Linked DNA regions of Homo sapiens: all the other regions are reported to be linked to region 4. Evidence: microRNA targets listed by miRTarBase, many of them from high-throughput screens and not tested one by one. Region 4 holds a microRNA gene; each other region holds the end of a gene's coding sequence.

What was found. The annotated mature microRNA hsa-miR-924 reads AGAGUCUUGUGAUGUCUUGC and lies in region 4 at 2,936-2,955, shown strand. An mRNA with a match to its seed (bases 2 to 7 or 8) in the 3' UTR can be bound and repressed. Matches are read on the target gene's strand: a 7mer-m8 pairs with bases 2 to 8, a 7mer-A1 pairs with bases 2 to 7 and ends in A, and an 8mer does both.
Region 1: the mRNA of ZNF285 is a reported target of hsa-miR-924. Seed matches in the 3' UTR shown: 7mer-m8 at 4,552-4,558.
Region 2: the mRNA of PYCR3 is a reported target of hsa-miR-924. Seed matches in the 3' UTR shown: 7mer-m8 at 3,016-3,022.
Region 3: miRTarBase lists UBE2V2 as a target of hsa-miR-924. Seed matches in the 3' UTR shown: 7mer-m8 at 2,278-2,284.

What each region holds. Positions count from the first base shown.
Region 1 is chr19:44,379,759-44,386,880 of GRCh38, reverse strand. ZNF285 (zinc finger protein 285) reads left to right here. Exons shown (of 4, transcript NM_152354.6): 4 at 1-4,583. The coding sequence ends at 409. Among named protein-coding and RNA genes, the nearest start is that of ZNF285, 18 kb to the left of the region's middle.
Region 2 is chr8:143,599,829-143,606,942 of GRCh38, reverse strand. It overlaps PYCR3 (pyrroline-5-carboxylate reductase 3), which reads left to right. Exons shown (of 6, transcript NM_023078.6): 4 at 264-476; 5 at 789-881; 6 at 1,061-3,733. The coding sequence ends at 1,243. TIGD5 (tigger transposable element derived 5) reads right to left here. Exons shown (of 1, transcript NM_032862.5): 1 at 3,719-7,114. The coding sequence ends at 7,111. Among named protein-coding and RNA genes, the nearest start is that of TIGD5, 5.6 kb to the right of the region's middle.
Region 3 is chr8:48,060,298-48,067,419 of GRCh38, forward strand. It overlaps UBE2V2 (ubiquitin conjugating enzyme E2 V2), which reads left to right. Exons shown (of 4, transcript NM_003350.3): 4 at 385-4,411. The coding sequence ends at 531. Among named protein-coding and RNA genes, the nearest start is that of UBE2V2, 55 kb to the left of the region's middle.
Region 4 is chr18:39,617,986-39,625,107 of GRCh38, reverse strand. It overlaps MIR924 (microRNA 924), which reads left to right and starts at 2,933; the gene lies at 2,933-2,985. All of the region lies in intron 2 of MIR924HG (MIR924 host gene), which reads left to right.

The DNA of each region.
Region 1 (7,122 bases), not on the chromosome of region 4:
ATACAAATGCAATGTGTGTGGAAAGGATTTTGCGTATAGCTCTGTTCTTCACACTCATCAGAGAGTTCACACTGGAGAAAAACCATATAAATGTGAAGTGTGTGGAAAGTGCTTCAGTTACAGTTCATATTTTCACTTACATCAAAGAGATCACATCAGAGAGAAACCATATAAATGTGATGAGTGTGGTAAAGGCTTCAGCCGGAATTCAGATCTTAATGTTCACCTCAGAGTCCACACAGGAGAGAGGCCCTATAAGTGTAAGGCATGTGGTAAGGGCTTCAGTCGTAATTCATACCTCCTTGCCCATCAGAGAGTGCATATAGATGAGACACAGTACACACACTGTGAGCGTGGAAAGGACCTTCTGACTCATCAAAGACTACATGAGCAGAGAGAAACATTATAAATGTAGTAAGTCAGGGTTCAATTAGTAAAACAGAAGCCACACTGTATTCCAGATGATAGAGGCTTACTCAGCCTGTGGGAGGGCTAGGGGAGCAAAAGACAGGGACACTGCCATCGATAATGTCAGCCTGCAGCACTGAAGTGTGCCAGGCAAGGACTGTGGATTTCAAGAACTTCTGTGAAGCTCCCATCAACTGCTGTATGCTACAATGGCAAAGAGGTTACTTTTGACAAATGGGTGGTTTGTGGTAGTGGTTGTAGTTAGTGGTCAAATTTCCATTAAAGGGTGTGTCCAGGAAGGAAATTCTAATTGGGATGATCATGGTAAGGTCTTCAGTTCAGCCAACGTCTTTAGATTTTTTTTTAGTCCCCAGTAGAAAAATACTCTCTGTATGAAGAACATTCAAAAGTGTGCTCAAAAATGAAACCCATGCTCTTACTATGAAAGAACGTTAGTACCCAGGTTTTCCATGAGATTCTCTACACAGGCAAGAAGCTCCATAGAAGTGGCATTTGAAGGGTGTGGCAGAGGCAGTGCTGTGTTTATCACACTGGTTCCATTTCCTTGCAAATAAGAAGTCTATTTCCCAGTAACCCTTGCAGTTAAGAGTGTGCCCATGTGATTGAGTTCTAGCCAATGGAGTGTGAGCAAAAGTGATATAAGCCACTTTCAGGTCTAGCCTTTACAAACATCCTCAGGCTTCTCTATCCCTGCCAAGGTGACCTTGGAGGCTGCTTATTCCAGACTGGGTTGATAGAAGGTCACTACTTCATCTGTGTTGGATTTCTTTTTAGAGTAAGAAATAAAAGTTCATTGTGTCTCACCACTGAGATTTTTGGTGGTTTATTTATTACTGCAGCATTGCCTAGGCTATCCTGACTAGCATGGAGGGATTTTATAGCAATATGTTTCATTGTCATTGGAGTCCACATACAGAAGTAACATAATTCAGAGTTCAAAACTTTTAAATCTTTAAGGCTTGATGTGGCAGTGCAACCATCTAAAATGGTATGGATGGGACTTCTTCAGTGATAACCTTCATTCATTGGTGAGTACACCAAAGAGAAATGTTCCAGATGATATAGCTGTGGTAAAACTTTACTGAAAAGTATAACCCACCGACGTAAGAAATCTCATATAATAGAGAAACTCTATAATGTGGGATGCTGAATAGGTTTGTCAGCTCACACCTTAAATGCGATTAAAAATTAACTAGAATAGGTGTTCTGTGGTTAGTCTTAATAAAATTAATTGAATAAAATCAACATTTACTAAAGTGACCAACAACATGTAAAAAACCAACAGTGTTCATTGCAGACTGATGCAGTCTTCTTCTCAGCAGACCTGTATAATAATGGGTTTTTAAAGGATGCTCTTTCTGTCAGTTTCCCCCCAAATTTGTCATTTAATTGGGGATAATAGATGAATTCGAGAGGAGATCTCTTTGCTTTTTTTTTTTTTTTTTTTTTTTGGAAACAGGGTCTTGCTGTGTCACCCAGGTGGCTGGAGTGCAGTGGCCTGATCATTGCTCGCTGAAGCCTTGAACTCCTGGCTTCAGTGATCCTCCTGCCTCAGCCTCCTGAGTAGCTGGGACTACAGACATACACCACCGTGTTCAGCTGATGTTTTCTTTAAAAATTGTACTTGTAGAGATGGGGTCTTACTTTGTTGCCCAGGTTAGTCTCAAACTTCTGGTTTCAAGCGATCCTCCTACCTCAGCTTCCCAAAGTGCAGGGATTACAGGTTTGGGCCACTGCACTCATCCCACAAGGTGTTTTTTTTTTCCTTCAAAAACAGTGTCCTTTTTTGTTTTAATTGACTTATAGGTTTCTTCATTTGGATCATGGTTTATTCCTAGTTTTTCTTGCATTACAGTTTCCTGCTAGTTATAGTTTGTAAACAGAACAGCCATTCAAGTGCAAATAAAACCATCCCTGAAGTGTCATTTTCTTACTGATCAGGTGGATAATAGTGAAATATTTTAAAAATTCTATGTCAGTAGAAATGAGGAAATGAGTGTTCTTACATAAGTTGGTGGGGGAAAGAAAAACAGGTACAAAGTTGCTGGAGAGGATCTTGTCTATATGTATCATATGTACAATGTGCATTGTCTTTGAGCCAATGATCCTGCTTCTCAGAATGTATTTTTAGGATGTAATTACATGAGTGGGGAAAATATGGTTTCAGAAAGAAATATGTTCTAAGAATTTTGCAATGAGAAGACTGTAAACAACCTGAAGGTTCATGTATAAGAGATTGAGTAAATTAGGGCATCCCATATAATGGAATAACATGGCTCCATCAACAATGATCTAGACCTATAAAAATGTCCACATGTTATTGTCCATGTCCACCACATACTCCAGTACTCCTACTTGCAAACATTAAGTTAGAGAAAAAATCCGGGATACACATTATCCTAGGAAGCTTTTGGGGTTTAGAATGGGTGCAACATTCCTTCATGACAGAATCAGCCCTCAGTGTTGGTGGAGGTGTCCCAGGCAATCCTCTAGTTTGGCCGGGAGCAGCGCTTGCATATCACATTAAGCTTTTTAAATATATGATGCTAACAGGAATGTCTCCCTACTTCACAAAATTGTTTGCTTTTCCTCTTGTAGCAAAGTAGCATGGAAAAAGCAGAAATTAGTCTAGCTCCCAATCAGTGGGAGCCAATCTCATTTACAAATGAAGATGCAGAGATCCTAAATAAATATGAGCATGTCAAATCCAATGATTTGATAAAAGCGTAACAGACTCGCTCATGTATAATTTATCCTAAATATGCTTATCAGCTTCTGCCTCATAACACACACAAGAACTGAGTAGCTCTAAATACATATTTATTTAGCTCATGATGTGTGAGCTGGCAAGTTCAACTGGGCTTAGCTGGGCAGTTCTGGTGTGGGACATGCTAGATTATCTTAACTGGGCTTTGTACATGCATCTGCAGTCAGCTGATGGTTCATCTGGGCCTGGCTGTTTTATGATGGTCATAGATGAGACAACGAAGTTCTCTCTGTCATCATGGTCTCTCACCCTCCAGAAGACCAATCGAGGGTTGGTCCCATAGTGCCAGGGTTTCAAGGGCAAAAGCTGTGATCTCTTAAGGCCTCATCAGGGAACAGGCTCAATGATACTTTCACCACATTTTAATGATTAAAGCAAGTCACAACACTGGCCCAGATTCATGGGGTGAGATTAAGACAAAATAAAAAATGTTGAGACATAATCATTGGAAGGAAAAGGAAGATACTATTTTTATGCTAGAGAATAATGTTATTTACTTATAAAATTCAAATCCACCTGTAAAATTTGACCAATTGAAGGCTGTTTTAAAATTATCGGGTCAACAAATTGGTTTCACACGAAATTGGCATGTGAAAATTCATAGCATTACTATGTAAGAGTCTTTTATAAAATGTAGCCAAAATGTTTCATTCACAATAACAATTGTGTGCAATGACCAGAATTGTCCAAAGGTAATTCTGGGAGTTCCCTTTGGGATGCCTAGGTGAGGAGCTATCTGGGGCCTCAGACTCCCACATTCTTCAGTGGGAAGGGCTTTACATGAACTCAACTTCCCAGCGGCTTTCTCTTCCTGATGGGAGGTGTTAGAACCTGGCTTTCTCATGCAACTTCTGTGAAGCTCTGACAACTAAAGCCAGATTGTCTGCTTTAGTTAAGTAGTCCAGATTACCTGCATAGTCAATTTGTTCCCTCACCAACATGGATGCCTTCACAATTGCTCTTTAAGAAGGATAAAAACATAGCGGTGAGGTGTGGTCTATTTCCTGCTTCACCCAGGCCCTGGTGCTTCTTCAAGTGGTATGAGAAATTGTGGTCCTGTGCCTTCTCTTCCAGACCCTTAGCTTACATGTTTTCCCTATAAAACTTAGTCCTAATCCCAGCACTTTGGGAGGCCAAGGTGGCTGAATCACAAGATCAGGAGTTTGAGACCAGCCTGGCCAACATAGTGAAACCCCGTCTCTACTAAAAATACACAAAATTAGCTGGGCATAGTGGCAGGCACCTGTAATCCCAGCTACTCAGGAGGCTGAGGCAGGAGAATCGCTTGAGCACAGGAGGTGGAGGTTGCAATGAGCCAAGATCGCACCACTGCACTCCAGCCCAGGCGACAGGGCAAGACTCTGTCTCAAAAAAAAAAAAAAAAAAAAAAAAGTCCCTTATGTGTGATGATAAAATTTGATGAAGAGCAACACTGGTGGACTTACATTACCAGAGATCAACATTTATTATAAATTTTCTATAATTAATACAGTGTGGTATTCGCTCAGGAGAGAAAAAATAGATCAATGGAAAAGAATTGGGAGCCCAAAAACAGATCCACATGTATACAGTGAGTTAGTTTATTAGCCTTGAAATATGTTGGAGAAATAATAGTCATTTTAATAACTGATGCTGGGTTATCAGTTATACTGATAACTACTACTTAACACTACTTAACACTAGCTCTTCATACAACTACAGGCAATAAATACAAATAGCATGCAGCTGGCAGACTGGGCCCAGTGGCTATGCCTCCACTAGACTGCCCATAGAAGCATAATAACAGCTACCGAAGATGTCTGATCTGTCTTGTCTTTTTTTTCAGGTATAATTTACATAAAGTGCAGACTTTAACTACATTTAAGTTTTAACAAATGTACATATCCTTGTAAATAATGCCCATTCAACATGTTAAACATTTTCTTTACCCCAAAATTTCCCTTGTGCCCCTTTCCCTTCATTTCTTTCCAAAAAAGGATATAATCACTGTTTTGCTTTCTATCACCATATGTTGGTTTTGCCTATTCTTGAACTTTATATAAATGAAATCATACTGTAATATACTCTTGCGTTTGGCTTTTTTTTCATTCAACATGGTTTTCTAAATTTGTAATTTATAATAAATAGAGTATTGCATATTTTATTATTGTTTATAAATTGTGTTCTGAAAACATTCTATATTAGTAAAATTTATAGTAAACTTATATAATGTACGTATGTTTCTTTCTGGAGAGCCATTTATTAAACATTTATTAGCATACCACTCACAAAGGAGATGTAACCCCAGAATTGGCCTTTTTCTTCTGTAGTCAACTGGCTTTGAAGTAGAATGTAACATTAGTTATTATTCCTCATTCCCCACTCATTCTCTGTATCTGCTTCTCTTATTTTTTTTCTTTTATTTTTCTGCAGACACTATGGTTACTTAAGTATCTACTTCTCTTTTTCTGCATGTCTTTGAGTAGAGACACTGGTCACCTTTGTTCCCCACTGTCTTTTCAAAGGTGCGTACGCGTTAGGGAACAAAAATATAGTGTCTTCCTCTGGAGCAGCAAATTTGTTTATGGACCACTCCAGTGAAGACAGTGTCTCCCTCTGGGGTGAAGGGCAGTGGTTTTGTTCCCACTGCCTATCATAGAAGATTCAGGTTTCCTAAGCTTAGAGTTCTATTCCTACAACGCAGCCCGCTAGGTATGCAAGCAGCACCTGGCCTTTCACGTCACTCTATGGGATTAGAGTGGTAAAAACCATTGCAAAGGATGACACTCTGGCTACTGCTGTGGTTGTGACTAATAAAGTCCTTTGTCTCAGAGCCAGGAGTCTCTTGTCTTGTGCCAGCATCTGTGAGACTGTCAGGCTAACTTGTGAGCTTGTAAATTGGTTCCTTTCAGATCCTTGGTTTTGATGGAAATAAATGTCTCTTAATCTTAGATGCAAACTAGAGCTACCTGGAATGCTTTCGGCTTTTTACAATTTTTTTCTGGTGAAATATACATAACATGAAATTTACCATCTTAACCATTTTTAAGTATATAGCTCAGTAGTGTTAAGTACATTTACATTGTTGTAAAACCAATCTCCAAAACTCATTTTATCTTGCAAAACTAAAACTCTATCCCATTCAACTCTATCCCATTCAACAGCAACCCTCAATTTTCCCCTCCTCCCAGCCACTGGCAGCCACTATACTTTGTGTCTCTATGCATTTGACTTCTCTGAGTCACGTAAATGGAATCATACACTATTTGTCCTTTTTTTTTTCTTTTTCTTTTTCTTTTTCTTTTTTTTTTTTTTTTGAGACAGAGTCTCTCTCTGTCACCCAGGCTGGAGTGCAGTGGTGAGATCTCGGCTCACTGCAAGCTCTGCCTCCAGGGTTTACGCCATCCTCCTGCTTCAGCCTCCCGAGTAGCTGGGACTACAGGCGCATGCCGCCACGCCCGGCTAATTTTTTGTATTTTTAGTAGAGACAGGGTTTCACCATGTTAGCCAGGATGGTCTCGATCTCCTGACCTTGTGATCCGCCCGCCTCGACCCCCCAGAGTGCCGGGATTACAGGCGTGAGCCACCATGACCAGCCCAGTATTTGTCTTTTTGTGACTGGCTTATTTAACTTACCATAATGTCCTTAAGGTTTATTTGTGTTGTCGAATGTGTCAGAATTTTCTTCCTTTGTACACTTGGGTTTCTTCCACTTTTTGGCTATTGTGAATAATGCTGTTATGAACATAGGAGTACAAATATCTCTTCAAGACCTTGCTTTCAATTCTTTTGGACACATACCCAGAAGTGGAATTGCTGGATCATATGGTAATTGTATTTTCAATTTTTTCAGGATCTGCCATTCTGTTTTCTATAGAAGCTGCCACCATTTAACATAATGTTTTTAAGTTCATTTATATTATTATGCTTATCAGTCTTCTTTTTAT
Region 2 (7,114 bases), not on the chromosome of region 4:
CTTGGGCTAAGGCCTTGGTCCCAGTATAGGCTCTGCTGGCCAGGCTTGGGCGGCAGGCAGCCCCCCAGAGAGCCTGAGAGGTGGCCGTGTGGCCCACCTGGATCAAGTGGCTGGATTTAGGGTTCCCTCCTGGTGCTGTACCTGGGAGGCAGACGCTGGAGCCCACCGCGAGCTGACGTGGACCTTTCCTGAGGCCCCTGCTGGGGCCTGCCCAGCAGGGCCCAGTCCTACAGACTCCCTGATTCTGACCTCTCTCTGGCCAGCTGCTGCCCCCAAACACACGGGTGCTGCGGGTCTTGCCCAACCTGCCCTGTGTGGTCCAGGAAGGGGCCATAGTGATGGCGCGGGGCCGCCACGTGGGGAGCAGCGAGACCAAGCTCCTGCAGCATCTGCTGGAGGCCTGTGGGCGGTGTGAGGAGGTGCCTGAAGCCTACGTCGACATCCACACTGGCCTCAGTGGCAGTGGCGTGGCCTTCGTGAGTATTGCCTCGTCCATCCCCGGCCCCACCCTCGGCAAAGAGGGGGCCCACCCCAGTCCCTCTGACAGCCTCTGCCCTCAGAGTCCAACCTTGAGGCCTGCGTGGTTGCTCCCCAGGCCCACTGGGAGCTCTGCTTGTCCCCGGGACTTCACTGCCTTGGGGATCTTTGAGGCCAGCCCCTTTGCAGACCGTTGGGCTCAGGCCTTGGTTCTGGCCACCCACGGCTACTGCTCTGGGCATTGTTCCTGAAGGTCCTGAGCCCCCAGGCTTTGACACCTATCCCCCCCAACCACCATGCCGCGGCTACAGGTGTGTGCATTCTCCGAGGCCCTGGCTGAAGGAGCCGTCAAGATGGGCATGCCCAGCAGCCTGGCCCACCGCATCGCTGCCCAGACCCTGCTGGTGAGTGAGGGTGGCCCCTGGGGAACATCGGGAAGGCCCAGGCCTGTACCTCTTCCAGTGCGCAGGGAAACAGCAGGCTCGAGAAGCTGGGGCCAAGGTTGGGGGATGCAACGAGGGCAGGCCGCACAGTGGGGACCGCACCACCTCCCCCCGTCACCAGGCCCTAACGCTCTCCTCAGGGGACGGCCAAGATGCTGCTGCACGAGGGCCAACACCCAGCCCAGCTGCGCTCAGACGTGTGCACCCCGGGTGGCACCACCATCTATGGACTCCACGCCCTGGAGCAGGGCGGGCTGCGAGCAGCCACCATGAGCGCCGTGGAGGCTGCCACCTGCCGGGCCAAGGAGCTCAGCAGAAAGTAGGCTGGGCTCTGGCCATCCTTTCCTGCCTCTGTGCCCCTGCCTCTCCCTGTGTCCCTTCCCCTGAGGACTGCGGCTCCCTCCCTCCTGCATGAGGGTCTCCTACTGCTCCTTCTCCCCTTGCACAGGGAAATGCAGGGGGCAGGACTTGGGAGGTTCCAGCAGGCGGGGGAGCCCCGACCAGTGGGGACACTCCTCCCTCCCCAGTGAGCAGAAGGCACCGTGGTGGTGGCTCTGCCCCTTGCTGCAGTGAGCCCACCTTGCTGCAACATTGGTTCTGAGGGGCCCAAGAGATGGCGTCTTGGTCATTTGCCCGCATGGTTGGGCAGTTGGTTGAGGCCATGAACAGAACTTACGGTAACAGGCACGGCTGGCCCAATGCCTGGTCTGGAGCTGGAGCTTGCCTTTGGCTTTCCAGGTGGCTCCGTGCAGCTACAGCCAGGCCGGCTGCCTCATCTCAGCTCTAGGGGGCACGAGCCATATGGGGTCTGCACAAGAGACCCTCTCCCCTGCAGTAAAGCCAGGGGCCCTGGCCTGATGGGGCCCCCATGGGGAGCTGGAGCCTGCCCTGCAGCCTGGAGAAGAGGGTGGCTGTGGTGGGCGTGCTCATCCCCTGCTAAGGAGCAGGAGCTGCTGGGCCAGGTCTGCGGCAGTGCTGGGGTGGCACCAGGTGGGCAGTGGTAGGTGGGGTGGCTTGAGGTCTGGGAGGGTGGCCCTGGCCAGCCAGGACACATGCAGACCCCTGGCTTTAGTCTGGATACAGGCTCCCTCTTTCCTCCCAATCCTAAGCTCCTGACAAGTGGCCAGGTGGCTCTGGGCCCTCCTGCCCCGTGCCTAGGTCAGGGGTCCTGGAATACCCCGTAGCTCTGGCACCACCACACTGGCCTCTGATGGCAAGACTTGGCCCCTCCACCTGTCCCTAACGGACGGCAGGTCAGGAAAGCCAGGACTCAGGGGAGAAGCAAACCCCCAGGATTGAAGGCTAGGGTTCTAGGGCCTTTGGGTGGGGAGGGCCCGGGCCGGACAGCCTCAGCTCCGTCCCCTGCCCCACAAGATTCACCTGGGCCTCCAGTCCCACGCTGGCCCCAACTGCTGCAGCTCTCGGCTTCCGCCCAACAGCCTCTGGAGGTGAGGCGGGAGCATGCCCTCAGCGAGGCTGGGCGGCGGGTCCTGCTGTGCCATCTCCCTGTGCGCCTGAGCAGATCAATCCACCAGTGCAAAACAGGGCTAACGGCACCTGCAGGACAGCAGCACGCTCCATCCCTCATGCTCAGCTGCCTCTGCGGCCACGGACTTCTGCCCTTCATCTGCTCTCTCTTACTCTCCTGAGCCTAGCCCGTCCGTAAGCTCCCTCCCCTGCCTGGTTCCCAGGGCAGGCTGACTCAGTTGACTGCTTGGTCCAAGCCTGGCCCTGGCACTTGTCAGGGTCAGCCTAAGGAGATGGGAATAAAGAGGCCAGAGAGCACCAAGTGAGCTCATGTTTCACCAGAGGTGGATAAAACCAAGTTCTGGGCTGGGCCCAGTGGCTCACATCTGTAATTCCAGCACTTTGGGAGGCCGAGGCGGGCAGATCACAAAGTCAGGAGTTTGAGACCAACCTGACCAACATGGAGAAACCCCATCTCTACTAAAAATACAAAATTAGCTGGATGTGGTGGTGCGTGCCTGTAATCCCAGCTACTTGGGAGGCTGAGGCAGGAGAATTGCTTGAATCCAGGAGGCGGAGATTGCAGAGAGCCAAGATCATGCCACTGCACTCCAGCCTGGGTGACAGCAAGACTCTGTCTTGGAAAAAAAAAAAAAGAAGGTCCAATGCCTGCCCCATAAGTTGAGGCCTGGAACCTTGGTCAAGCACAGGTGTCAGCCGAAGGGGGTGCTGGCACTGTGGACAGCAGAGGTCTCCCCATGCCTGCTACAGGCCTCTACATCACCTGGGGGCTTTGTAGGGCATGGAATTGCAGTTTCCCCTGCACGCTGTCACCCCAGGGGACTGTATGCCAAGCCTGGGCAGGCCTGGGAGCCTGGGGTCTGGTGCAGGCGGCCCCCTGAAGGAAGGTGGACAGCCCTTCTGACGGCCACCTGCATTCACACCAAGCCCATCTGCAAGGAGAAATCATTGACTTTGCACCAACACCTGTCTCCCCCTGGGACCTCTGACAAGCCCTGGGCACTAGGTGAGCTCAGCTCGGGAGGTGGAGATCCCAAGCCAGCCACTCCTGGCCCAGCTGGTGAGGGCCTGTGACAAAGACACGGGCTCAGTTCTCGGCACGGCAGGGAGCGTTGTGGTGAGCCAGGCCTCCCCTGTGCCTTCTACTTCCAGGTGAAAACTGTTCTTCAAGACAGAAAACGATGGATATGATTACGGTATCTTTGATCAATGTTCCACTTTTATGCCCTATGCCCCAACTGTTAATCTAGGGGGTATTCCTGATCCAAGCGTTGGATCAAGAGTTTAAAAATAAGACTTCAAAACAGGGATGCTCATGAAGTGGACATGTCCAGCCTTTATTAGATAAAGCCACTGGGCCCATCTGACCAGGCGAGCTCAGCTGTAAACAAGCTCGCCAGTTAGAGGAAGGGCCCTCAACAGAGCATGACCCCACAAGCCTAGGGACTCCGACATGCTGTTGGGGCTGCTCCCCATGGGTGTCTCAACTAGGTAGGTAAGGGGTTGGGGTCTCTGCAGGACCCCCCCGTCTGGGGGTGCTCCCCTTCCTTTCCTACCACAGTGTGATGTTTCATCCGCAGCCCAGTGGACATCGAGGGGGTCCCCCAAGCCTGCAGGTCCTTGGGCCAAGGCAGTGGCCTCGTCCCCCTGAAAACGCGGGTCGGGTGGTTTCAACAAAACCTGCACTCATCTTTCCCTCCTCAGCGCCTTCCCTTCTCCAGCCCCCACAAGCCCAGGAACTCTGACAATGATGCTGACACGGGGGTCACTAACTGGAAGAGCAGTGAACAGGAGCTGGGGGCTCTTGGGGGCCATCTGAGCTGAGGACAGCTGGCTGTACCTCCGAGGCCACAGGCACCCCCACCCACCCCTGCGCCTGCAGGGAATGTGCAGAATCTGCCAGAGCGGAGGCCAGAGCCCGCAGGCAGCCACGGCTGTTAGAGGAAGCAGATGCAGCCTCACCCCAGCCCACGTCTGTCACCACAGCCAGGGCCTGGCAGGCGATGGCACCCGCGCAGCTTTGGGAAAGAACACTTGGCCTCCCAAAGGGTTCTGCCACCCCTGGGGGCCGCTACAGCCACCAACCCTGGGGTCTTTCCATCACTTCAGACACTGAGCAGAACCCAGAGAGGGTTAGTGAGCTGCAGGTAGGGCTGGGACGGGGCCCCAGGTTCCAGCCCAGGGTCTCAGGGATCCATGGCTGGCACTGCCCACAGGGCCAGGCATGGGCAGAGCAGCCTTCTCAGCAGCGGGGCCCAGCGGCCAAGCCTCTGTCACACAGCACCCTGTGCCAGCATGCCCCGTGCTAGGGAGAAGATGCTTTTTAAGCCCTCTTTAGGGGGTATTTCCCGTCTAGTAAGTGCCAGCAGGCAGACCCACTCTTGACAGGCTCCTAATGTCCCCACCAGCGTGCACCTGCACTTTTTTTTTTTTTTTTTTGAGACAGAGTCTCGCTCTGTCGCGCAGACTGGAGCGCGGTGTTGTGATCTTGGCTCACTGCAATCTCTGCCTTCTGGCTTCAAGCATTTCTCGTGCCTCAGCCTCCTGAGTAGCTAGGGTTACAGGCACCTGCCACCACGCCCAGCTAATTTTTGTATTTTTAGTAGAGACGGGGTTTTCACCATGTTGGCCAGGCTGGTCTCGAACTCCCAATCTCAGGTGATCCACCCGCCTCAGCCTCCCAAAGTGCTGGGATGACAGGTGTGAGCCAACGTGCCTGGCCTCTTTTATCTTATAGCAAAAATTAGTGCTGCCTTGTTTATAGAAAGTGGCCATTGAGGGACTGGGGGACAGGCCACAGCCACCCCGATGAGAGGAGCGGGCCTGCCCTCACCGACACCAGCCTCCTGGGACCCGGGCCAACAAAAGGGCTGAGATGGGAAGAAAGGTTGGAAATGAAAGCCTCGCCAAAGACGCAGCGGCAATGAGTAGTTGGGCTGAAGGGCAGCGCCACGGGCCGCCCAGACTACAGACAAGGCCTGGCTATGCAGCCCTCACTGGCACCGCGGCCGTGAAGTCAGCTTCTCCTCAGAGCCCTGGAGGCAGGCCTGGCAGAGCAGAGGTGGTGTCCCCGCCTTGGGGGCCTGTGCCCCTGGGAAGGTGCTGGCCCAAATGTCTCAGGCTTTCTGCAGCCCATCCCCAGCAGTTCAGGCCAGAGGCTCTTCCTGCAGGTGGCGGTGGCCTGATGGGCTCAGCAGGCATGCCTGGAGCTGCTGCCCTGAGCTCTGCTCAGGGAGTCTGTTTCTTCTTCCCCAAATTTCCACGGCCTCCCTGAGCTCTCAGATTTTGAGATATAGATATATACATATATATGTATATATTTCTTCACTTGCGGGCAGTTCCAAGGAACTGTTTGTTCCTGGACCTGTATAAAGGTCACTTTTGGGGGACACCCTCCAGCTGCCCCACTGCCAAGCTGGTGCACAGCCCTTCCCTTCCCCGTGCAGGCCTCCAGCCTACCCCTGCACTCCACAACTCTGGGTTTTCAAGGTTCCCTCTCCTAGGAGGACACTGGGGGCAGATGGGGACGAGGGGTCAACACCTGGAGGCAAGCAGGCCAGCTCCCTGCCCCTCACACCAGCTCGGGCAGCATCTCTGCAAAGGCAGTTCCCACCCTACCTGAGGAGGCATGGGCATCCCTGGCCCCAGTCCAACCAGAAGGACTGTAGGTCTAGACCTGGCCAGAGCAGAACAGAACCAGGGTTTGACAGGCCCTGGGGCCCTTTCCTCCTTTCAAAGTAGGCCTCCCAGGAGCAGCTTGTCAGCCACATCCTTGGCAGTCCCAGGAGAGGCAGAAAAGTCTGAGGGTGGGGAGGAGAGCCCACAGAGGGTGGCACTGCGTATTGCCCTGGGGGCTAATGCCAGGGCCTGCTTCCAGGTAAGTCAGGTGGCTCCAGGCCCTGGGACTGGACAGAATGGTCTGTGGCTGATGAGGAAGCAGGGGAAACTCTCCTGCCGTTGGCCAAGTCACCAGGGCCCAAAGCCAGGCAGCTGCCAATCCCACGGAATAAGAGATCTGTTCAGTTTTCTTAGGGAAAACTAAAAATCCAAGGAAACGGAACTCTACACCTCCCTGCTGCACCCAGAACCTAATACAGGGCTCCACCCCTCCCACTCCACAGTGATGCTCCAGTACCTGGGGCCTCTGACCTCCAGAGAAACCGCAGGGCGGCCCGAGACCAGCCCACCCGGCCCCTGTTCTCACGGCCCCTCTGAAGAGTATCTTTAAAAACAGATTTAATGTGTTAAAAAAAAATAGAATCAAGTGGTGTGCTTCGCCACTGAGATGATTGTGCTGTGGCTCCGGGGCCACATAGCACCAGGGCTCGATAGCAGACAGGAGTTTCGGCCCTCGTCCAGTGCATGTGACTGGTGCAGGGGCGGAGGCCCAGCCCCACGGGGGCCAGAGCAGGAACACAGCCACCTGTTCCAACAGGCGCTGTGCCTTGTATGCCCCGTACATGTGCCTGCCCTGAGAGGAGCATGGGCCAGGCCTCTCTTCCAGCTGTGCCCCCAGGGTGCCAGTGAGGCAGGGCGACCTCTCACCAACAGAGCTCCTCCAAGCCATGCTGGATTTGGATTCCTGGAACCCCCTGTACCCATGCGGTGGGCCACCCCAGGGGGAGGGGAGGAGAGATGGGAGACTGTGTGTATGTCCCCTCCCTCCAAGTGCAGCAGGAGAAAGGTCACTGGGCTGGCCTGGTCAC
Region 3 (7,122 bases), not on the chromosome of region 4:
GGTTAGTAGCTTTTGTCTAAATCTCAGTGTGAGATAATTCCCCAGATTTTGGGCGGTGGCATTGGAAATGGAGAGGAACCTTTTGACCTTACTCCATTAAGAAAGAATTGGTAAATTTATTGACAAAGTAGTTATTTAATATAACATTTATTTCTGATGACCAAAGTTCACTGTATGTTTTATGTCTTTATATTTTCCCAAAATATTAAACTAATTATGATAAAATATACTAATTATGGTATTAGTAATTCCATAGTGTATGTTTTGTGAAAATAGAGGCAAGCTATGAATTTTCAAAATCATTCTTATTAAAATATGCTTAACAAATTGGTGCCATAGTACTTTAAACTTGCTAGTTAACTGTACTCTTTCCTCCCCTTTCAGGTGGATGCCCGGAGCATACCAGTGTTAGCAAAATGGCAAAATTCATATAGCATTAAAGTTGTACTTCAAGAGCTAAGACGTCTAATGATGTCCAAAGAAAATATGAAGCTTCCACAGCCACCAGAAGGACAAACATACAACAATTAATTTTAGTGGATCTCAAACTTGTCTTAAATCAACAACCTTCTACTCATGTTAATGTCTTGATTAAATATCACAATGCAAAATACACATTAAGTAAAAGAATTCCAGCTGGTAAACATGACCTGGACATTTGTAAGAATATATTTAATATATGTACACCCATTATGTTTTCAGGTAACAGGAGGAAAAATGCAGCACAATTTTTTTTCTCTTGAAAGGCACTGTCATTTAAACATAAACCTGGAGTACTCGAAATAGAATTCAGGTTTACAAGATGAAAGCGTGTGGAGAAGTGTCAGATGGCAGTGGAAGCATGTGTGTTTCTAAAAAGTAAAAATCTCAAGAAAACAGAAATGGCATGCTTTACCCATCTTACTTAGTGAAAGAGAGCTGCAGTTGAAATTGTTTAAAAAGTAGCAGGTACAATGAATATTGTCACAGATGTGTTAATTTTTGAAGCAATGTGGGTGCTGACTACTAGTAGTATCAAAAATATGTTCAGGATTGTTTTGATACCTGTATTTATAATAAAAAATGTTGGGGGGAGTTGATGAATTCCTGTTAAAAGCTGTTCTTGTGTGTTACATGTAACAGACATGGTAAATATTTGTTTACAGTCTTTGTTTAACAAACCATGCATTTAAGTTTAAGTGAAGTCAACAAAAAGGAAATAGGTGTATGGATATGTGATTTTGAGATTAAAGTTAGTCTTAAAATGTAAATAAAATGTGAAACGTGTCCTCAGAGACTGTGCCATTTCTATTATGTTGATGTATATGTACAGTACCTTGCCAGGGAAGCAAAAATTGGAATTATTGTAGCTTTTCATGTATACACACTTTTATTTACCCTATTTTGTGTACTTCTTGTGAATTATAATTTGCAGACTATTTCAGAAAAGAAATTATCTAGTTTAATTTCTTCTTTGGACAAGGAGTCCTAGGTATTATATTTTGAGTTTGATTTCACCAGAAATAATAATATTAAAAAGATCTTTGCATTCTGGCAGTTCTTTTAGGATTATAGGTTGCAAATTATCCAAATATATATCCCATTTTTTAAAGCATAATATCTTTTTTAGTTGTTTTTCTGTGAAGCTTTTGGTTAATAAATAGGGTCAACTAATTGGAGACTTTTCTCTTCCAATTAGGGCTTTTAATACTAACAAGGATAACTTTATTCATTCCTCGTATTCTCTACTCTAACAAATATGAACTCTGAAGTTGAAAAGTCATTTATGTTCCGCTTTCACCAAAGTGACGTGAGGCTTTAGGTCACTGTTTCACTTCAAAGTACTGGATCCAAAGCTTTGTTGAAAATGCTGTTTGATGAATTCACTGAAGAATATAGAAAGGTGGTCAGGTAAAGTCTACTTTTATTTTGTCAAGCTTAATAATTTGTGTCATACTTTACCCCAGTATATATAGGCAAACCAAAACCTTATCAAATATTAAATTAGTTGTTTAAACTTTGCTTATAAAGTATTGGCCATGTGGTGGCTCATGCCGCTAATCCCAGCACTTTGGGAGGCTGAGACGGGCAGATCACTTGAGGTCAGGAGCTTGAGACCAGCCTGGCCAACATGATGAAACCCTGTCTCTACTAAAAATACAAAAAATTAGCCAGGTGTGGTGGTGGGTACTTGTAGTCCCAGCTACTCGGGAGGCTGGGCAGGAGAACTACTTGAAACTGGCAGACAGAGGTTGCAGTGCCGAGAGCGCACCACTGCTCCAGCCTGGGCAACAGAGCAAGACTCCATCTCAAAAAAAAAAAAAAAAAGAAAAATATTAATAATTGACCTTGGCTGTATATTAAAATAGTTACTTTTATAGTAGAGCACATTTCTCAAACATGCCCTGAAAGGCTTTTATCAAGCTCATATAAAGTTAAAGCTTTGAGCTACCTTTTCTTGGCCAATAAAGTCACTGACAGTTTATGTAAACATTAATTTCAACATGGCTGTTGCATTTTAATTATCAAAAATGTTTAAAATGCTTTAAGATGACACATAGAGAACATACACATACATACAAATTAGTGCATTTGTAATTTGTTAAATTTGAAATGAACTATTACCTTGAAATATAGTCTTTAAAAATTTTTAATGGTTAAAGATTAAATTGAATGAAACTGTAGTCTAATGGTAACTGATGATCTGAATCCGTCTCTCTGATAACCTCCTTTCCATTTTGAAAATGTGTCTTATTATACATGGAAGCTAGTAACTACGTGAATGCTGTTGGCAGGATGAGGGTCTGGGTACCTCAGTCTCTTGTCCTGTTTCCTTCCCCCAAATCCACCATTGTGAAGTTGCCAACCCCCTGCCGCCTTCCCCTGCCAAGTACATGTTGTCAGAGTCAGCCCTATAATGTTCATTTCCCCTCTTGTTTGTGGGATTATGGATCTCTGCAGAAATCTGCATGCCAATTAACCCATTTCTAAAGCAGAATCCATTTTGCATGTCACAATCAAGATGTACTTGGCAATCTAAGACACACTGGGAGACTGTAAGAGGAATTAATATAGAAAAGCTCTTAATTATAATAACATTTGGAAGAAATTTTTCCTTTGTTTTGTAAAGTGGCTAAGGTTGTAGGAGTGTGTGGTATTTATTACCTTTTAAATGAACTGTAAATTTGCCTTAGAAATTTGTTTAAAAGGCTAGCAAGTGAGACCCTTGAGGATGATCATATACTAATAAAGATTACCAAAAGAAACTTCTTGTCCTGTTAGGTCAGTGTTATGATTTAATGGTTTTAATTACTTAACCAATTTTAAGAATTGACAATTTTTAAAAATATTTTTTTCTACCATTCTAAAGTAATGTCTTTTGTTGTGGGTTTATGTGTAACTACAGGATTTTGGAACATAAACATTTTGAAGGATAGTCAATGGTATTTAGTCTTGGATATAAAAATAGAGAAAATTTATAGCTTTATGTTATTAAAATAATTTATCACACAGAGTGATTTGAGGTTTTCGCAGAGTAGATTTGTTTGACTCATGGTTTATTAGTCTGGATTACTTAAGAACAATATGTTGATTTTAATGTTAATTCCCACTAAATATATAATATTGATAAATACATGTGAAATTAATATTGTTTGGAAAATGTAGAGGACACAGCTGGGAATTATGAATGCTTTTTTCTTAATAGGTTTGGTGTGTGTGGCTTTGAATGGTTCTGCTGATGCATCATGGAAAGACAGCAGGGAACTGTAGCCTGCCATCAAAACTGTATCAACTCTTTTAATGAGCATGTGACTGTATTAGGTACATTTTGAAGAATATAAGTACTGATGATAAAGTCTAGTATGCATAATAGGATTTTGGAGGCATTTCAGGAATTTTCCTTTTATAGTATGCTTTTTAGGCATCTGTATGTGTAATATCATAGTATCATTTATTGCTGGGATGGATCGAAAAGCACTGCTTTTACTTTTCTGATAAGTATCAAAATGATTTTCCAGTACCAACTTGACTGGCTTTTAATTATTGTCACACACACACAAAATTCAACTCCTCAAGGTTTGGGAAAATTGTGTATTTTTTTGTATACAAGATAAAAGTGTCATAAAAAGGAATGGATGAATTGTTGATAGGAACATTAGCAGTTAATTTTTACCTGATACTGAGTTTACTGTAAAATAGGAAATGCATAGGAAGGAATACCTCCTAAATAATATGCCTTATAGAATGATGAAATCTTACCATAGTTCATACTGAAAATGTTGTTTATTTAAAAGTATTGTGGAGTGTTGAAAATAAAGATACACAATAAGTATTTTCTGAAGAGAAAATTAATGAAGGTATTTAATGATATAGGAAATAAGTGACAAGTTAAAGTCCATTTTGTTTCAATAAAGGAGTTGTGCAAACTCAAGGAGTGAGTTACATGATTGAAAAAAACCATTGGATATGAGGAGGTTGCTATGGTGTTTATATCCTTAATAGGATCTTTTCATCTAAAAAATTCCTAAGAATCTGCTCCATCTCATGTTTAAAATTAAATTTTTTTTTTTTTTTTTTTTTTTTTTTTAGAGACAGGGTCTTGCACTATCACCCAGGCTGGAGTGCATTGGTGCGATCACGATTTACTTTACCCTTGGCTATCCTGGGCTCCAGTGATCGTCCCGCCTCAGCTTCCTGAGTAGCTGGGACTACCGGTGCACGCCACCATGTCTGTTTTTGCTGTTGTTGTTGTTGTTTTGTTTTTTGTTTTTGGTAGAGACTGGGTCTCTGTTGTATAGGCTGGTCTGAAACTCTTGGCCTCAAGTGATCTTCCTGCCTTAGCCTTCCAAATGCTGGGATAACAGGCATGAGCCACCACCCCTGGCTGGCATCTCATATTTCTGTGTAGTCTATAAGACCATCTGAAAAGTTTTTGCTTCAGGTTAATTTGTGAAGTAAATGATAAAGGCTGATAGATGTTGTTTTCTTATAGAGATTCCAGGGATTATCCTTTCTCCAGTGTTTAACTGACCAAATACCATGTTAAGTGTTGTGCAGTGATCCATTTGCTGCCAAATAGATAGACTCAATGTGTGAATTCTTCTATCTTGTCATTGTCAATAGTGAGCAGCTACTTTATCCAGAAATTTTGGCAGTTAAAAGATTATACCAAAGCAGAGTTGTTATTCTTAGTTGGCACTAAGAAACCAATAGTCAAAAGAAACCTGTGGTCAATAGAAAAGCAAATTGTTGATCTTATCCATAGTGAATACTTTGCATTGCTTGTTCAGTACAGTAGTTGAGTAATGAAAGAAAAATATTGTTCAAGGATTACAAGGAGGCTTTTTTTTTTTTTTTTTTTAAACAAGCAGTCCTCCTGCCTCAGCCTCCCGAGCAGCTAAACCACAGGCACACACCACCACACTCGGCTAATTTTTAAAAATTTTTTTGTAGAGACGGTCTCGCTATGTTGTCCAGGCAGGTGTCAAACTCCTGGCCTCAAGCAATCCTCCTGCCTTGGCCCCCCAAAGTGCTGGGATTACAGGCATGAGTCACCTTGCCCAGCTCAGTTTTTTTTTTCCTTTTAATAATAGATTACAGGGTAATACTGAAAAATCACATCATGAAATGAGATTTTAACAGGACATCCTCATATTAAAATGTAGTAAAATTAGTTTTAATACTGAATGTCCTGTTTTTTATTTAAAGACTTTCATCCATTTATAATTAATAAACATGATACTTGATACTTGCTAATGCTTTATTACATTTGATAGCCCTTGTAGTTTATCAGCCTTTAACTTGAAGAACAGATTTTTTCCACAGTTGATAATTGATAAATATATTGTTTCATTCTTTATCACGCCACATTAGCCACTTAAGTAATGGTGGTCAAATGTTCCGATTACATCCATTATTATAAATTACCTTTTTGTTGCTATAATGTAAAAAAATCTGGATAATTGCAATGATTATTCAGACAAATTTAAAGTGGGTATTGGGTACGTTTTCAGTTATCCTAATACTCAAGTGAAAATAATTGAGTTCACAAGAAGAGTAAATTAATTGCATCGGTTTTTAAATTTTAGTAACATATGGATCCCTTTGAGAAGGAAAGTTCTTGTGGACTTAGTATTGTCTTGAATTATTTTTGTTAAACTATTGTTTAGTGCATACATTGAACTTAGGCTCTTAGATCTTTTTTTTTCTTCTTCTTTAGACCTGTAACAAAACTGCAAGATCTTTTAAAATTATAAAGTGGGCCCGGCAGAGTGGCTCACGCCTGTAACCCCAGCACTTTGGAAGGCTGAGGCAGCCAGATCACCTGAGGTCAGGAGTTCGAAACCAGTCTGGCCAACATGGTGAAATCCCGTCTCTACTAAAAATACAAAAATTAGCCGGGCATGGAGGTGCGTGCCTGTGGTCCCAGCTACTTGGGAGGCTGAGGCATGAGAATCGCTTGAACTTGGGAGGCGGAGGTTGCAGTGAGCTGAGATCGTGCCACTGCATTCCAGCCTGGGTGACAGAGCAAGACTCCGCCTCAAAAAAAACAAAAAAAGCTTCATTGCTAAAAACTAGGTAATTTTTAATGAAATGTGAACTTTATTAAGTTGTGTTTATCAAACATGTTGGCATGCTTGTTATTAAACCCTCCCCATGTTAAGTCCTTATAAAAGGCTGCTTACTTGGTACTTGTATGTAGATGATAATATTGAGTTCATAGGTAAATATATGTACATTATTGTCAACTCCTGGTTACAGAGATGATGATCAAGTCTGCCGGTCCCTCATCTGGCACCTCCTATCTGGTAGAGTGTAACTACCCATTAGCATAATGTTGTAAGCGGAACTGGATAGTAATATGGATAAGTGAAGCCATTGGCATGATATTCTAAACCGAACTGGATAGTAATATTGTGAAATGAAGCCATTAGCATAATGTTCTAAGCTTAACTGGACAGTAATATGGATAAATGAAGCAATTATCACAATGTTCTAAGCTGTACTGGACAGTAATATGGATAAATGAAGCCATTAGCATGATGTTCTAAGCCGAACTGGATAGTACTATTGATAAATGAAGAGCAGTCCAGAGGAATCTACTGCAAATCCTAGGGAAAACACCTATTTTGCCCTTTGCCC
Region 4 (7,122 bases):
AGATATCAGGAGGAGGCACATTCTTGACAGATGAAACAGCTCTATTAGGTAGTAAGGACTCTACCTTAGAATAATTTGTATTCAGATAGAAACTGAGAGTGGAAATGAAGCTGATTAGGTTGGGGTAGGAAGAGGTGTTATCCGTAGTCTTGTTTTGGCTACACAAAGCGTGGATACACTTCAGATTTATATATGGAGAGGGCAAGGATGCAGTAAAATGTTTAAATTTGGTGTTCTGAAAAGAGAGAAAATTAGGATATATGAGTTGAAGAATCACAATATATAGATGCTTTTTAAAGCAATGGGACTAGATGATGTGGAGGGTAAGGGAAAGAGCATGTTGAGGGAAGAGATGGGAATCTACATTCATTTATAACAGCAACAACATTCCTCAACCTCAGAACATGATTAGCACTTAAATCTTATGTAACCTGTATGAAACTGCAAGCCAATATGCAAACAGGTTAGTTAAATCAAGCATAAAGTCACCTTTGTCCTATTTTCATTGGAGTTAACACAATACAAGTCTTGTTCTTCATCCTCAGGCTTACATGATTTAAACTAATCATTTCATTTAATACATAGTTAAGTGTATCCTGGCATAATAATTATCATTAATCAAACTTAAAAGGAAATGTTTGTTACTTGGAAATTAGGTTTTATTCTGGCACAGTATCTTTAACTAGCTGTCCAGATGTTAAAATTGATTTCTGGAAGATCTAAGTTGAGATCTCAAGGCATATAAACCTCTAATTCTTACTGTGATTGGTAATCAGTAATTCTCAATTTCTTAAATTAATTATTTAATTCTGCCAAGAAAAGTGATCTTGGGATTCAAATAAACGTGACTTTGAATCTGAATACTATACATTACTGATGACTTTAGCTAAGTTACTTAACATTTTATGAACAGTTTTCATACATCTAAAATGGTAGTGATAATGCCTACACCCTAGAATTGTTGTGAGAATTAAATAAAATAATGGATGTATGAAGGGATTAAGTATGTGACTGGCACATAGTAAGGGCTCAGAAAATGCTATTATTTTGTTAAAGTCAGAAAAAAGGAAACGTACTATCAGGGATTCAAGTACTTGGATATAAGCAATAGTTTACAAACATTTAGTTTCTTTGAATCTTGCGTTGTATTTTAAAACTGTGTGCATTTTTAACTTTTCCTCACAACAATCTGTTTGTGTTAACATGAAATTCTCCATCAAATAATAGGTCATATTGACCTTTAAAGAAAAGAGTATGTAAAATTCTACTTCCTAACACCTAGAACACCATGCTTCAAAACAAGATGCTGGGATAGAGGAAAGCTCATTTAACAGTCTTAATATTGTCAGTTAGTATTAATGTAACATTCATATTTGTGAGAGATAACATTGACTCCCAGAGGAAAGAATGAAAATACCCTAATATTTGCCATATTTACCCATCTAAATCTTATGATCTGAATCTCAGTGACCTTTATTGATCAGTCATAGTAAGCCTAGGAATACAGGAGTGAAAGCTTATTAAAAAGTTTTACAGTAGGAATGAAAAGAAGTAAAGTAAACATGGAAAAGGGCCAAGTGGGTGACTTGAGAGATCCACGTGCTCTCCATCCGACCCTTGACTTGGGGTTTTATACATTGGCGTGGTTCTGGGGTTTGCATTTCATCTCCCTTGATTTTTTTTTGGGCTGGCTATCTGTACATACGTGCAGTGGTCTGTCAGCACTTGAGAGGGGCTGCATGCACAGTGTTTACTGCAATTGTGCACATGCTCATTTGAGGCATTTTTCCCTTACCAGTGGAGTGTTCCTAGAGGAAGGTCATATACCAATTAAACTCTACCATTTTGCCTTTTACTGTGCATACTTAAGCCTGCTCACCAAACTCCTGAGATCTTAGGAAGCTACTGATCACCAGTTTCGCGTGTTTTCTGTCTTTTGGGAGACTGCCATTTCCTGGCACCAGCTATGGTTGCCCTTCACGGGGTAGAAGGCCCTCTCCTGCCATGCTCATGTCTGCCTAGCTACCTATTCTAACATTCTGTGCACCTAAAGGTTGAAAATGAAGCAAAATTAATATAATTGAACAGTTTATTTGTGCCAAGGTTGAGGACTGCTGTCCAAGAGTCATAGATTCAAGTAGTCCTGAATATATGCTGCTGTTAGCATTTACAGCAGTTCCAAGTGGATTTTCAAAGAAAAAATGAAGAAGTAGAAGTTAGAGGCAGTTCCTAAAAATTTTTTAAATAAGGTATATTGTTTATTGAAATAATAAGCTGTTGACTATTTATTATTCTTTGTATCATAAATCCCAGGAACATGAAGAAAATAGGTGAGAGTCACATTGTAAAACTTGGGGTAATATTTTAGGAAGTTTATCAGCTAGTCTGGAAACTACACGGAAGGAAAGAAAAAAACCAAATGCCTTTAAACAATTACCCTCCAAGCATGGATGTGTGGGATGAGAGGGTGAGTGAAGTCTCATGCTCATGGTTCTCTGGGCATGAAAAATGTTACATACCTCACATTCCTCAGACTACTTTGAGGAATCTATAGATAAAAATTGGGGCAAAAAGGAAAATTTAAATTCATGTCTGAGCTGGAGAGTAGAGAAAATGGTACAAAGAGACTCATATAAAGAAGGATTCACTTAGGGTTTGGGTTTCTATTCCACACACTGTTAAAATATGCTCTTGGCTGATGGACAAAATGGACTTCTCTTGGCTAACTGAGGTGCTCAAGGTTAAAACAGAACCAGGCAGCCAAGGCTGGGTGAGGAAGGGATCACATACTCTGTATTCTTGGGAAAATGTTTTAAAAGTGTCACAGGACCTCTTTCTGCAATCAAACTAAACCAGTTTCTGTTATTTATCCTAAGATAGATTGCTGGTGAAAATTCCTCAACTGACCACCCACAGACCACCTAAGCCAGTCAATAGAGTCTTGTGATGTCTTGCTTAAGGGCCATCCAACCTAGAGTCTACAACTGATTCCCTTCCATCCTATGGTTTTTGCCTTTATAATAATTTTCTACTCCTTGACTCCTCTTCGGTGTGTATTTTGGTTTGCACTGAAGGCTGCATCTCCCCAGTCTGCAGATTGCTTTTAGAAAATAAAGTTCTCATTTTGCCTCTGTAAATCTCATTGGTATATACTGTAGGAGCAAAGAAAGCTTCCCCTCTGCCCTCTAAAGGTTTGCTGAAAATAAACTGAAAATAGGCAGATTAATAATACAAAAAGGCATACAACATTTATTTAATGTGCAGGAGTACGAGGGAATCACAGGAGAATGATGGCCCAATAACTCAATGAGGTCCAGGTATTTATATAACCTTCTCAGGAGAAGGGGCAATCAAGGTTGTAGCAATTTTGAGGGGTAGTAAATGATTTTTAGGGGGAATGAATGGACTCAACAGACAAAAATTAACTTGGAAATGATTCTCTTTGGAATTCAAATAAGGCTGAGAGACATTATCTTATAAAAATGTCCCTCCAGATATGGTTGCATTCCTGTCTTCTTTTCTGTGATAGGTAATGAGATTTCAGAGAGGGAATGGAGGGCAGTTGGGTTCCTTTGGCAGGTCCAGTCTTAAAGTAGATAAGGAAATTTCAGAGAAAAGCCTAAATCCTGTGCTTTGTTTGGAAGAGCACATTGTCATATTTTTGGGTATTGTTTTCTGAACCCCAATAATAGGCACACAGATAATTTTTCCACTGAGGACTCCACATTTTAAATTATTTAGCAATAGGCTTTTTGACATTTTTACTAATCATAGGTATATACTCTCCAAATTTTTTGATCAGCACAAGCTATATCACTTCAACCAGAGTTATTCCAATGAGTTGTTACTTTACACAAAGCAAAGAAGCCTGACATTGATCTAAGTCTGAGCAGGTTTTTCTTAGTTACCTGAAAAAGGCTTTAATTTAGTGTTTTCTTGTTTGTTTGTTTGTTTTCAATATTACAGAAGACTTGTGAACCTTTATCACTTAGCCCCATGGGTCTAAAGACCATATTAGAATGACAGACCAGAAGTGAATCTTTCTCCTCTGGTAGCCAATATTGAAGTATTTGGAAGTGGTGACATGTCTGGTATTCAAGCCCTAGGAGATATCTGAGAGACTGATCAAAGGAGCAGGGGAAGCCTGTCTCTTGTATGCCCCAATTTCACAGAATACCTCTTTGTATTTTATAGTCTTTTACTATCTGTTGTTGCACTTAGCATAGAATTGCAAATTCCTATTGATTGATTAAACCAATTTAGACTGGTTCACTTGTAGACGGCCCAAAGGGAAAAACAGAAAACAAACAAAAAAGAAAAAAATATCTAAGTTATTTCACTTCAAGGGCCTCTGAATGTGTGTTGCAATACAGAGAACAATGATCTCCTCTGTCACGCAGTTTCTTTTTTCAAGATTCCTTATAGGTTGTTACTGTTTTCCCCCACCACAGTTTGTAAATAGCAGAATATGAAACAGGCAGTTGTTCTAGTAATTTGCAGTTTCAAACCTACATCTTAATGCCTTTCCCCCTAAGTCATTAATTACAGCACAATGGATCAAAATCTCAAGCACACACCTCCTTCAGAGGACTATGGCTGGTTTTATAGTTCAGGAAAGGGCAGAGCCAACTGTCTTTTCTTCTGACCCTTATGAATTGCATGCACACCCAAGCCAGCTTGACCTCTTTATCTAAAATCTTGAAGTTGTGACCCAGGGAGGGCCTGTGAAGACAAGATCTATAATGAATGTGTGACTTAAATATGCTTATACTATGATTGACTTTGTGGTCACAGTGGCTATATGATATAGTTTAGATTAGTGCACCCACACAAATCTCATGCCAAATTGTAACCTCCACTGTTGGAGGAGGAGCCTGGGGAGAGATGACTGGATCATGGGAGAGGACTTTCCTCTTGCTGTTCTCGTGATACTAAGCGAGTTCTCATGATATCCAGTTGTTTAAAGAAGTGTGTGGCAACAACTTCTTTGCCCTCTTCCTCCTTGTTTGGCCATGTAAGATCTGTCTGCTTCTCCTTCACCTTCTGCCATAATTGTAAGTTTCCTGAGGCCTCCTTAGCCATGCTTCCTGTACAGCCTGCAGAACTGTGAGTCAATTAAAACCCTTTTCTTTATAAATTACCCATTCTCAGGTAGTTCTTTATAGCAGTGTAAGAACGAACTAACACAGAAAATTGGTACCAGGAAGTGAGGCATTGCTAATAAGATACCTGAAAACATGGAAGGAGCTTTAGAACTGGGTAATGGGCAGAGGTTGGAACAGTTTGTGGGGTTCAAAAGAAAACAGGAAGACGAAAGAAAGTTTGGAACTTCCTAGAGTTGTGTTGAATGGTTGTGACCAAAATGCTGATAGTGATACGAAAATAAAGTCCAGGCTGAGGAGGTCTCAGATGAGATGAGAAATTTACTAGGAACTGGAGTAAAGGTCACTCTGTGTCCCAAATTGGTGGGTTCCTTGTCTCACTGACTTCAAGAATGAAGCTGCGGACCCTCGCGGTGAGTGTCACAGTTCTTAAAGATGGTGTGTCCAAAGTTTGTTCCTTCTGATGTTCACACGTATTCGGAGTTTCTTCCTTCTGGTGGGTTGGTGGTCTCGCTGGCTTCAGGAGTGAAGCTGCAGACCTTCCCGTGAATGTTACAGCTCTTAAGGCAGCGCGTCTGTAGTTGTTCAATACTCCCATCTGGAGTTGTTTATTCCTCCCGGTGGGTTCGTGGTCTTGCTGGCCTCAGGAGTGAAGCTGCAGACCTTCGTGCTGAGTGTTACAGCTCATAAAGAACGTGCGGACCCAAAAAGCGAGCAGCAGCAAGATTTATTGCAAAGAGCGAAAGAACAAAGCTTCCACAGTGCGGAAGAGGACCCTGAGAGGGTTGCCACTGCTGGCTGGGGCAGCCTGCTTTTATTCCCTTATGTGGCCCCACCCACGTCCTGCTGATTGGTCCATTTTACAGAGAGCTGATTGGTCCGTTTTGACAGGGTGCAGTTTGGTGCGTTTACAATCCCTGAGCTAGAAACAAAAGTTCTCCAAGTCCCCACTAGATTAGCTAGACACAGAGCACTGATTGGTACATTTACAAACCTTAAGCTAGACTCAGGGTGCTGACTGGTGTGTATACAATCCTCCAGCTATGCATAAAGGTTCTCCAAGTCCCAGCTAGACTCAAGAGCCCAGCTGGCTTCACCTAGCGGATCCTGCACCAGGGCCACAGGCGGAGCTGCCTGCCAGTACCGCGCTGCATGCCTGCACTCCTCAGCCCTTGGGCGGTCGATGGGACCCGGCGCCACAGAGCAGGAGGCGGTGCTTGTTGGGGAGGCTTGGGCCACGCAGGAGCCCACGGGGTGGGGGGAGGGTTGGGGAGGCTTGGGCATGGCGGGCTGCAGGTCCTGAGCCCTGCCCTGCAGGGAAGCAGCTGAGGCCTGGCAAGAATTCAAGCATGGCACGGGCAGGCCAGCAGTGATGGGGCACCCGGAGCCCCCTCAGCAGCTGCTGGCCTTGGTGCTAAGCCCCTCACTACCCTGGGCCGGCAGCTCAGACCGGACGCTCTGATTGCGGTCCCGCCGAGCCCACACCCACCTGGAACTTGTGCTGGCCCATGAGCGCTGCGCGTTGCCCCAGTTCCCACCCACGCCTCTCCCTCCACACCTCCCCCCAAGCAGAGGGAGCCGCTCCAGCCTTGGCCAGCCCAGACAGGGGCTCCACAGTGCAGCGGCGGGCTGAAGGGCTCCTCAAGCATGACCAGAGTGGGCGCCAAGGCCGAGGAGGCGTCGAGAGTGAGCGGGAGCCGCCAGCATGTTGTCACCTCTCAACTCTGCTATGCTTTAGCAAAGAGACTGGTGACAGTGTGCGCCTGCTGTAGGGATCTATGAAATTTGAACTTGAACATGATGATTTAGGGTATTTGATGGAAGGAATTTCTAAGCAGCAGAGCATTCAAGATGGGCCTGGCTGCTTCTAACAGTGTATGATCCTATGCGTGAGCAAAGAGATTATCTGAAACTGGAACTTATATTTAAAAGGGAAGCAGATCATAACAGTTTAGACAATTTGCAACCTGACCATGTGGTAGAAAATAAAAATCCATTTTCGGCCAGGTGCAGTGGCTCA